2 separate regions of the Homo sapiens genome follow, and region 1 is linked to region 2. The links come from fine-mapping of genetic effects on gene expression. Tissue or cell type: whole blood. Region 2 holds a variant in brackets; the other region holds the start of a gene. All regions are shown on one strand. Distances are between the middles of the regions.

Region 1 (5,332 bases), 130 kb before region 2:
CATAGTCAGATTCTGTCTCAGGAAAAAAGAAAGAGGCCGGGCACGGTGGCTCACACCTGTAATCCAGCACTTTGCAAGGCTGAGGTGGGTGGATCACTTGAGGTTAGGAATTCAAGACCAGCCTGACCAACATGGTGAAACCCTGTCTCTACTAAAAACACAAAATTAGCCAGGTATGGTGGTGCATGCCTGTAATCCCAGCTACTTGGGAGGCCGAGGACGAAGAATCACTTAAACTTGGGAGGTGGAGGTTGCAGTGAGCCAAGATTGTGCTATTGCACTCCAGCCTGGGCAACAAGAGCAAAACTCCGTTGAGACAGAGGGAGAGAGAGAGAGAGAGAAAGAGAGAGAGAGAAAAGTAGTCATTTTTTAAAAGTCAGATCATGCCCTCATCTGCGCAAAACTCTCCAATGCTTTCCCAACCCAATTAAAAATGTTAGTCCTTTCAGTCACCTACATGTTCTCCTACCATTACTTCCTTTCTCTGTGACCTCATGTTATTCTCCTCTTTGTACTCATTGTGCTCCAGCCACACTAGCCTTCTTGCTATTTCTCAAATGCGCACTCAGGCTTCTGCCCAAGGCCTTTGCACTAATTCTCTTCATTAGAATGTTATTTGCCCAGGCATCTACATGGTTTATTCCCTCCCCTACTTCATATCTCAATTGTCCCCTTCTGGATTATGTCTTTTCTAACAACCTTATTTAAAAGTGAACCTTGCCCCTCACATCCTGGCACTCCCCATTCCCCTTCCCAGTTGTTTTATTCTCCACTGCATTTGTCTTCATTTCATTTACTAAGTGTTTTACATATTTATTTATTATCTCTCCTCAGTAGAATGCAAGCTCTATGACAGTAGGAATTTTTATATATTGTGGTCAATGCTGTATCTTCAATGTCCTGTTATATAAAAGGGACTCAACAGAGATTTGTTGAGTAAACGCGTGGGTGAAATGGAATATGAGAACCAATGACTGAAAAATGGACTGTATGGCTGATCTGGAGGGCAATATATGAAGTTAGTCTGAAAGAGTACCAGATGATGTCAGGCTTTATAAAGGAGTTTTGTCTTTAACAGTAGTAGGACACCACTGAATAGTTTTAACCAAGAGAAAATCTGATCAAATCTGCAGTTTCAAAAAATCATTCTGGCAGATATAATGGAGAACTAATGGAGGAGGGTCATTGTGAATAATTGCTACTGTAGTGGTCTTGAGAGATTATCGCAGTTTGAAGACAGGTGGAGAGAAAAATATATTTGAAGGATATTTTGAGAGATAAGGTTGGCAGAACTTCATAATAATTTGGCCATAGAAGTATGAAGGGCAAGAAGAAATAAAGAATAATGTTTAGCTTTCAAATTTTCACAAGTAGATGGATAGTAGTGTCCTTTGCTGAAATAAGGAACACTGAAAAAGAATTAGATTCATAAGAGATAACTATGCATTTGGTTTTAGGTATGTTGAGTTTGAGATGCTTTTGAGATATCCAAGAAGAAATATCCAAGAGATATTGTGAAAGCTGAGAGGTGAAGCTGAATGGAGCTATTCATTTGAGAGTCATAGGTGTTGGTGAAGCCATGGGTATACATGAGATCATATTTAACTACGGCATAAAAAGGCACCCAGCCTTAAGAAACTACCCGACCCTTTATGGGCTGGATAGAGAATGAAGATCCCAAAAAGGAGATGAAAACGGAATGGTTTTTGTTTTGCTTTTTCAATCACACTCATAAGTTATTCCCTTTTTAAAATTCAGATTCAAACTAGAAGTGTCAGAATGTAACAAGGCTTTTGAAATTAGACCAATTCATCAGAACTATGCATCTATTCAAAAATAGCTCACTTACAGAAACGATGTAAAGAATTCACAATACCTGTCTCTTTGTAGCTTCTAAGTGCATCAATACACAAAAAGCACCCTTCCCGTCCCACCCCACACCGCCAAGTATGCATGATTTGGCTTACTGACGTTTCCTGAAAGTACCCTATCTCTCACTCTGGGCCTTAGCATATGCTGTTCTTTTGGTCTTCATTTCCCCTGGGATGAAGATTTCCCTGACTTTCCAAGATTGGGCTAAGTCATCTCCTTCTAGACATCCCAGTGATATCATGTATTATTGTAACCGTATGTCTAACAACTAGTTCCTCTAACTAGTAAGACTGTCTTTTTCATTGTTGTATACTCAGTGCCTAGCAAGACGAAATTTTTAGAATTTAGTGCAATGCAATTCTGCAATGTAAAGAATTAAAATCTACACCGATTATCAGTCCACTGATGGCCGTTCAAACCTCGACTTTTCTCAAATAATAACTTTTTAAAAGCAAACTAATTTTAAGCAAATGACTGAATCTTTTGAAAAAGTCGACTAAGTTTTGGAGACTTTTACGGTTTTGCTTTCTTTTTCCTGCTGTATCCTTAAAGCCTGCAAGAATTCCTATCTAGGAATACTGGGGATTCTTTTACGAGATGGATTTGACAACTTGCTTTCAAAGCCCTGCCTAGGATTTCATTTGACTGAGCAAATAAAGCCCAGAACATCCCTAAGCAAAGGCAAACAAAGGTGCAAATGCGCGGAGATCCCAAATCCACCCCGCGTGTGTCCACAAAAAAGGGCGGAATCAGAGGCAGCAGCGCGAAGCTCCAGTTTCCACAGCATCCTTCCTTCTTGGCCTTACTTAGGCCGCTCCCTGCGACCCTTGGGATCAGGATCCCAAATCCTTGCCTCACCCACCACACCCCGCGCTTGGGCAGCTGGACTAGTCCTTCCCACGCAAGTCACTGGAAAAAGTCCTTGGACTAAGGGAGGCCACCCTAGATGGCTTTGTCTCCAAAATCCCAGAGGAAATGGAGGAAGGAAAAACCCTGTCAAGGAAAGGTGACAACCCAGCTTACAGTGCTTACCAAGCAGACGCTCTCAGTCAGCCCCTGCCACCGCTAACCGTTGGTTCGCGGGCACCCACAGGCAACGTCGCGGTGGCCCCTGGGGGTTGTAGTTTCTGTCGCAAACAAAACGCGCCGGCAGCATCGAAACTACATTCCCCACAAGTCAACGCGAAGACGTCCTACCGACTTAAATCTGGGGTTTGGAGTAATGAAGAGGCCGTCACTACTTTTAGGGTGATCTTAAATGTAGACTCAATTTCTTCCAGGAGTCCCTTCGCGCCCTCTTTCTTTGTCGTGCTTGTTTTATGTGTGACGAAGTCTCAGTGTACTTCTACGTCTTACTTTTTCCTTCCCCTTCTCCAGGACAGAGTCCAAACGTCCGGGAACGGAAACCGCCTCAGGGCGCAAGCTTAGCGCCTCCGGGGGCGCTTGGCCCAGTTCGCAGTCACGCATGCGTAGCAGCCGGCAGTGGCTGGCAGCCGCGCGCGGCGCACTTGGGGTCCGGAGGGTAGCCTGCCAGAGGGCGGGGCTTTTTCCTAAGGCTTTGCCTCGGCGGGTCGCGTCTGCCTGGGCGGGGAAGAAGGCGCTGGGGCCGGGGCGGCTCCCGGTTTGTGCCGGGCGGAGAAAGGGGAGGGGCTGGGGGTGAGGACCCCGTCTCCACTCCCTGCTCCCGCCCTCTGGGCTGATCCCCACCGATGGGGCTGGGCGAAGGGCGGGCTTTGCGCCTCGGGCCCCGCCGCCCCGCCAGCTCCGCGGCCCAGCCTGGCGCTCGAGGATTGCCAGGGCCGCCCTGTGCCCTCTGGCTCGGCGGTGGTGGGCGAGGGCTCAGGGATCGGAGAAGTAGCGTCTTCCCGGGGGTGCCGAATTGGCGGGGCTGGGGGACGCTTTTTTTCACCGCCGCCCGCCGAGACTACGGCTGCCCGAGACTGCCGCCCTCCGACAGCGCCCAAGCCTCCGGCCGCTGCGGCCAGTGGGCCAGGGTTCGGCGAGCCTTCCCTGCCGGCGCCGGCCGGCTGCTGAGGCGCTGGGAGGAGCTGCGGAGGGCGGGGACTGGTGTCGGAGAAGGGGCGGGGTGGGAACGCCGGAGAGAACCCGGTGGCTGCACAGACAAAAAAGCCCCGAATGGCTGGAGGGCGTTCAGCTGTTAACAGCCTTTTGGGGCAGAGCACGGATTTGACAGCTCCACAACGTGAGGATATCCACTGACCCCGCGAGACGGAGGAGAACGCTTCCCCGAAATTCTCTGCCCACCAAAGCCAGCGCTGCAAGGTTGCAACTTTCAAACTTTGTTTTTCCAGAAAGAAGACTGCCCTTTCGTGTACAAGGAGAGGGTGAGAGGGTGACCTAGCTTGTAGATCGGCTGAAGGCACCAGTGGTTCCAAATGTCACCCAGATGTGTGTTTTCATGACGATTTGATTTCTCTGATTTTATTTTTACATTTTTCATTTTAAAAATACAAAGCAATTTTTTTGGGGCATGCTGAAAGGTAACTGAAGACCGCAAAGGAAAAACTATTGTCATGGCTGAAGGAGAGAATGAAGTGAGATGGGATGGACTCTGCAGCAGAGATTCAACTACTAGGGAGACAGCATTGGAAAACATTAGGCAAACCATTTTGAGGAAAACCGAGTATCTTCGTTCGGTGAAAGAAACACCTCATCGTCCATCAGACGGGCTTTCAAATACCGAGTCTTCGGATGGGTTGAATAAGCTACTTGCTCATCTGCTTATGCTTTCTAAGAGGTGTCCCTTCAAAGATGTGAGAGAGAAAAGTGAGTTTATTCTGAAGAGCATCCAGGTAAGGAAGAGCATTTTAAATACAACTATGTCTCTACTACAGTTAAATTTTACTTGCCGTTATTCACGTTGTGTTTGTTTCTATTAGGTTGTTATGTAAACTTTTATTATGAGTTTACATCTTTAGAGTGTTCTGTAAGTAAACAAGTAGTGTTTTTCTAGAGTTTTAGGCAGAAACTGCTTTGCTCCTGGAAGAATATATGAAAACTACAGTTAATTCCAAGTAAATACTTGTTTTTCCTTATATTTCTTTTTACATGTTGTTGGAAAATGTAGCCAGTGTTTTTTTTTCACATTGTCACAGTGTTCTGAGTGTAAAGGCTCACATTTAAAAGCCTCTAAAATGATAAAGGATATTAAATGTTTCCTAGTCAGCCTGTTCAAGATAATTGGTGGAACAATTTTCTCTTATTTTTAAAAACAAAACAAACCAGGATGTGTTCTCTAAATGCAACCTCTCTTTTTTCAAGAAGAGAATTATATAAAATAATAAAAACCTATCTTAAAAGAAGCTAATATCTTCATGTTGAAAAGGTGGACCCAGGTGGGGTATTTGATAGAAACACTTTTATGGCAAATTGCTCAACTAGCTTTCTCTGTGTTTGCCTGAATTGTTTCTTTTTCACATGTGTAGCTATTTAAGATACG
Region 2 (5,600 bases):
CTTGAATTCCTGGGCTCAAGTGATTCTCCCACCTCAGTTTCCTGAGTGGCTAAGACTACAAAACACACACACCCAGCTAATTTTTTCACTTTTAGTAGAGATGGGTCTCACTACGTTGCCCAAGCTGGTCTCAAACTCCTAGCCTCAAGTGATTCTCCCACCTCGTCCTCCCAAAGTGCTGGGATTACAGGCATGAGCCATTGCACTCAGCCTTTGATTAATTCTTTTTAAGATTTGAATCATCATAAGTTAGAAACTGTGCTTCACAGTATTTTGCATCATGACTCTGTATACATATACCTACTTATATATGAATAAACAAATGTTTCACATTATAATACTTGTCTTTACTAAATATAATACATTCTGATATTTTCTTTCTTTGCTACTTCATTTTTTAAAGATGCTGGTCACAACCAACTAAATTGTTTTCCTGACCTGCAGTGTGAAAAGTGCTTATTTAGGTAACCAATCATTCTTAAGCTTTCTTTAGGCACAGCATGCTTCCAAATACTAAAATTTGGGGCAAAGTATTAGAAAGAATTAAAAGACCCTAAAATATAAATATGTATCAATGGTCATTACAACACAATCATCATTAGAAGTTTGTGTCCTGCAGCATCTATAAAAGCTTCCTTTACTCACTACACTATTTCCTAGCTAGCTGTTCAGCAGCAGATGGCTGTTTAAGGGATTTATCATCGCCCTGACCATTCTCTTATAAGGCAAAGTTGTCGAATGTTCTAGAAGCACCTGAAAGCTCTTCAACATAGGTTGATGTGATCCTCCAACTTGAACGTGGGGCCCCGCTCTACCCTTGTCACAAAACCTAAGTGCCCACTGCCACAAAACTTAGGATGAACATACAACAGCCTAGTGTACTTCCCATTTGCAACAATAAACTACACACATGGTCATCAGGTGCCAGCTCCCCACAGAGGGGCTCATGGTAGTCTGGAGTGCTCAGCACACCACTAAGAACTTCAGCATCAACACGCTGCTTATGAGCTCATAAGACATGACTGCAGTATAATGGGAAGTTTCAGACCACGTTCTTTTAAAGCCACTTTCCAGAAAGACTGTCAACATTCCAACGATGTTGAGGGTATATTACTTCTCCTTTTTTTCTAGTCACTCAGCAAGAAAAAGTTAGGTAACTTACATTACTATAGAAATTGCCATACCAGTATTTGCAAAAACAGTGTTCATACTTCAACACAGGCCTTGGTAATTCAACAGCTCATCCTGTTTCCAAAATGGCCTGTTTTTGTTTGTTTGTTTGTTTTAGCTATCTTTGTAAAAGAATTGAAATGCAAGTATACTCTCACCCACATGCCCATTTCACTCGCAGCAGTCCCACTGCCCAGACCCAGCCACGACCCGGTCAGAAGTCAGGGTCTGAGTGCTCATTGCCAAGAGAAAAGCCAGGAGGCAGCACAGCCCACCACCCAGCCCACAAGGCACAGTCCCCATGGTTCGTGAAGAGGAGCTCACGTGAGAAACCTGGGATGCATTGCAGTGGCTTGGCTTCCTGAGTGAGCTGTGTTTATTTGCTGTTATCCATGCCACAGTCCCCCTGCACAAGGTGCAGTGGAGTAAGGGTGTTCTAGGTAACGGAGCGGCTGGAAAACACAAGGCTAGTTGTTTGTTTTCGGATGGGAATTCCTGCCTTTGCTACAGTATGACTTCAGGCAAGCCACTTAACTGTCCTAAAACCTACTTTCCGTATCTGTCACCTAGCTGATGGCCTCAGATCTTTCAAAAATAGAATAAACATGCTTTTAAAAGGATATAGCACTATTGAAACAAAGGTACCACCATTGTTAGCCAATCCACATGCAGCTATCAAGTACCTTCTTTGTATGAGGCAATATCCTTTTCCTAAGGTGGTTCAGTTGCAAAGGGGAAATAAGATAAAACTCACAAAATAATAATACAGGATAATTACAGGACAAGTTACACAATTCATGACTGATTGCTATATAAGAAGTATAGATTTCCTATGACTAGCCTACGACTGTGGGCTTGAGAAGCTACGTGGGAAGGGCCTGCACCTGGCTAGGCAGATTGGGATGGGCAGGCAGGAAATGAAACAGAACATGTGCAAAGGCACAGAGGCGGGAGAAGCACAATCAGAAGCCCAGTTAGGCTATGGAAAAGTTGGGAATGGAGCGCAGTCAGCCCTTCGCATCCACGGGCCACGTATCCACAGGTTCAACCAACCACAGACAGAATATTTGAAACAACAACAATAAAAAGAATACAAATAAAAATCACAGCACGACAACCATTTACATAGCGTTCACACTGTAGGTATTATAAGTAGTCTAGAGATGGTTTAACGTGTGCAGGAAGATGTGTGTAGGTGAAATGCCAATTCTATGTCATTTTATATCAGGCACTTGGGCATCTGTGTTGGTATCTGAGGCAGGCCCTGAAACCAATCCCCCCAGATACCAAGGGGTGACTGTAACAGGCAGCAGGGCCCACTAAAATGAAGTGCCTTCCAGGTACACTGCCCCTGCTGAGAAGCCAGCCATGCCCACACCTCCTTCTGATCCATCTTTATGCCACACGGCCCCGGCCCCGCAGCCCCACCATCCTTGTTATTTATGGCTGATTGCCCCAGGCTTGGGTAACAAAGGAAACCACAGATAGCCTGTCACCCGGTAGCTGCTGCCTATGCGGGAAAGCCCTGGGCCATAGGACAGTGACTCACTGAGCCAATCATATCTTCTCCTGGAGTGGGTGACATAGGAAAGTGCCCTGGCAACAGACAGACACAGGGAGGGCAGCAAGTGGAAGCCTGGAGGTAGCTGAAGCCATGATCTAGAAGGAGCCTAGAGAGAGTAAGTGGGGAGAGAATTCTTTCCCTAACAGCAGACACAACACAGCTGGGTCTCCAGAATGGCAGAGCCCAGGGGGCGGAGCTCATGACGCCCACGGCTGAGGGGTCACTTGGGACTCTGGCTCCTGCCTGCCTCTCTGGGAGGCTTTGAGCAGTATCTTGTTTCCTGGCTTCTTTCTTCTCTGTACACTCTTCCCTTAAGCTCCTTTGCTAACGAGAGCAGG[G/T]GCTCTCAATCTTAGCTAATAGACTCACCTGTGGAACTTTGAACACAGATTCTCAGCCTCATCCCAGAGCTTCTGAATCAGAATTCCTAGGGCTGGGGCCAGGAAGGTGTTTTTAGTTTTTTTGGGTTTTAACTCCACAGCTGATTTCAATGCTCTACCACCATCGAGAACTGAATTAAGGCAACCTGAACATGCACTTCTGCTCCCTGCAACCTGAGTCAGTTTAATGCTCATGGAGCCGACTGTGAACCTCAATGATTAAAAAAAAATGCTCACTTTTTTTTCCTTATTGTGTTTTAAAACACATGTACAAAATTATATTTACCTGGAAAAACCAAATTTCACATCAACCTAGCAAACCCAATTATTTCAAACAACTCCTGAGTTCCAGTTTCTGTTTAGTAGCACGGTGTTACAACACTTAAAGAGTTTCCAGAGCACGTCAGCCACCTTCTGAGGACTTGCTATGCAGCAGGCACTGTGTTAGGCTCTTTGTACACATCTGCTCATTTATCACCCTGCAATCTGGACATTAATTATCCTCATCTTGGAGATGATAAAATATCATTTCGGAACGGCTGATAATCTGTGTTTTTAAAAGTTCCACGGGTGAGTCTGCTCTGCAGCCAGGATTGGGAGCCTCTGCTCTGGTTAGTGAAGGAGTGTAAAGGAAAGGTGTCTGTTAAGCTTTCTCAGGTTGCAGAGAAGTTGAGCTCAAAATTTAAAAACTCAGCACCTATGGCTTCCAAGTGACCTTGAGCCTTTCCACATGGCCTCCTGGATCTAGTATGGTGGCTGGGCAGTGATGGGTACATCTCCTCTATTTGGGAAAAAGGATTATTAAAAACACTCACTTACTGACCCAAATCATTGTTTTTAGAATTAACCCAGGAAGAAAAAAATTATCCTAAAATTATAAAAATTTTTTAAATGTAAAAAATGATCCTGGCCAGGCAAGGTGGTTCACACCAGTAATCCCAGCACTTTGGGAGGCTGAGGTGGGAGGATCGCTTGAGCCCAGGAGGTTGACACCAGCCTGGGTAACATAGCAAGACCTCATCGCTACAAAAAAAAAAATTTTTTTTTAATTATCTGGGCATGGTGGTGCGTGTCTGTAGTCCCAGCTACTTGAGAGACAGAGGCAGGAGGATCACTTGAGCCCAGGAGTTTAGAGCTGCAGTGAGCAGTGATCGCACCACTGTATTCCATCCTGGATGACAGAGCAAGACCCTGTCCCAAGAAAAGAAAGAAACAATCTTCTTTCCTTTGATTTGTATCAGTGATTTCCTACCTTTCAAGGATATAAACTCCATTGTAATGCCAAATAGTCTCACAGGCCCTCACCCACATGATAATTAACGTAGCTAATTAAAATGTATAGCTTCATTTAAAAGCATGACTTGAGTAGATTTTAGCCGTATTTTCTCAATTACAATAGTGTCTATTTGCTTTTGAACAACAGAAGTACATTTACGCTGAGGTCTTATATTTATGCACTCTAGAGAAAATGCAAAAAAAAAAAAAAAAAGCCATAGAAGAAATCATGAATGTATCTAATGAGTTGAAAGTCCTTCTGTCCCCACTGTAAATAGCATTCAGCCTTTTCAGTTCCAAATTATAGTAATCTTTAACATACTCTTGTTGCTTATAGAAATATAGTCACCTAAATGCATACTAATATTTATCCGAACAGGTCACAGAAAAAAACTATCTCACACTCTGATAAAACTCACAGACTCATCATAGTCAAGAGTCTTACCTAAAAATGATGAGAGCAAGAGTAAGAGTGTGTTGGTGTCTTCATTTCCAAAACATGACGAAGCATTAGTGATGTTTTCACTGAAGTTCCATAAAGTTTTACAAACCAAGCAGGCCAGCTGCCAATCAGTAGGACCCAAATCTCTTAAACAGTCCACTAACCTGAGTTAATAAAATTCAAATTGAGAAGTTATTAGGTCAGAATCTGTCTTTAATTTTAATATTGTTAGCATAATGATTATCCTTCTGTGATATGTAAGTATAATCCAGTGATCACTTAAAATAATTCCTTATCTATAAATTTAAGTGGTTATAAAGTAGCAATAATCTACTTCTACACCTTTTTTTTTTTGAGACAGAGTCTCACTCTGTTGCCCAGGCTGAAGTGCAGTCGCGCGATCTCGGCTCACCGCAACCTCCACTCACTGCAACCTCTGTATCCCGGATTCAAGCGATTCTCCTGCCTCAGCCTCCTGAATAGCTGGGATTACAGGCGTGTGCCACAACGCCTGGCTAATTTTTGTCTTTTTAGTAGAGACAGGGTTTCACCATGTTGGCCAGGCTGCTCTCGAACTCCTGGCCTCAAGTGATCTGCCCACCTCGGCCTCCCAAAATGCTGGGATTACAGGTGCGAGCCACCACACCTGGCCTACTTCTGCACTATTTTAAGTATCCAGTGGAATCTAAACCCCCTCTTTAGCCTCAGCTTAGGGGCTTCCCAATGTTGAAATACCTTTGCCCCACAGGAATGATGAAAGGGCCAAAGCTCC

Evidence for each region. PIP is the estimated chance that this variant, and not a neighbour inherited with it, causes the effect.
Region 1: it holds the start of CEP57L1, and the variant in region 2 is fine-mapped to the expression of CEP57L1 in whole blood (INTERVAL, PIP above 0.99).

The regions. Positions count from the first base shown.
Region 1 is chr6:109,093,148-109,098,479 of GRCh38, reverse strand. CEP57L1 (centrosomal protein 57 like 1) reads right to left here and starts at 2,973. Exons shown (of 11, transcript NM_001271852.3): 1 at 2,905-2,973. SESN1 (sestrin 1) reads left to right here and starts at 3,634. Exons shown (of 10, transcript NM_014454.3): 1 at 3,634-4,685. The coding sequence starts at 4,407. RefSeq lists enhancers at 2,987-3,246, 4,117-4,266 and a silencer at 3,307-4,006.
Region 2 is chr6:108,964,372-108,969,971 of GRCh38, reverse strand. It overlaps ARMC2 (armadillo repeat containing 2), which reads right to left. Exons shown (of 18, transcript NM_032131.6): 17 at 4,832-4,992. Among named protein-coding and RNA genes, the nearest start is that of ARMC2-AS1, 43 kb to the right of the region's middle. The variant G/T (reference allele first, on the strand shown) is at 3,073.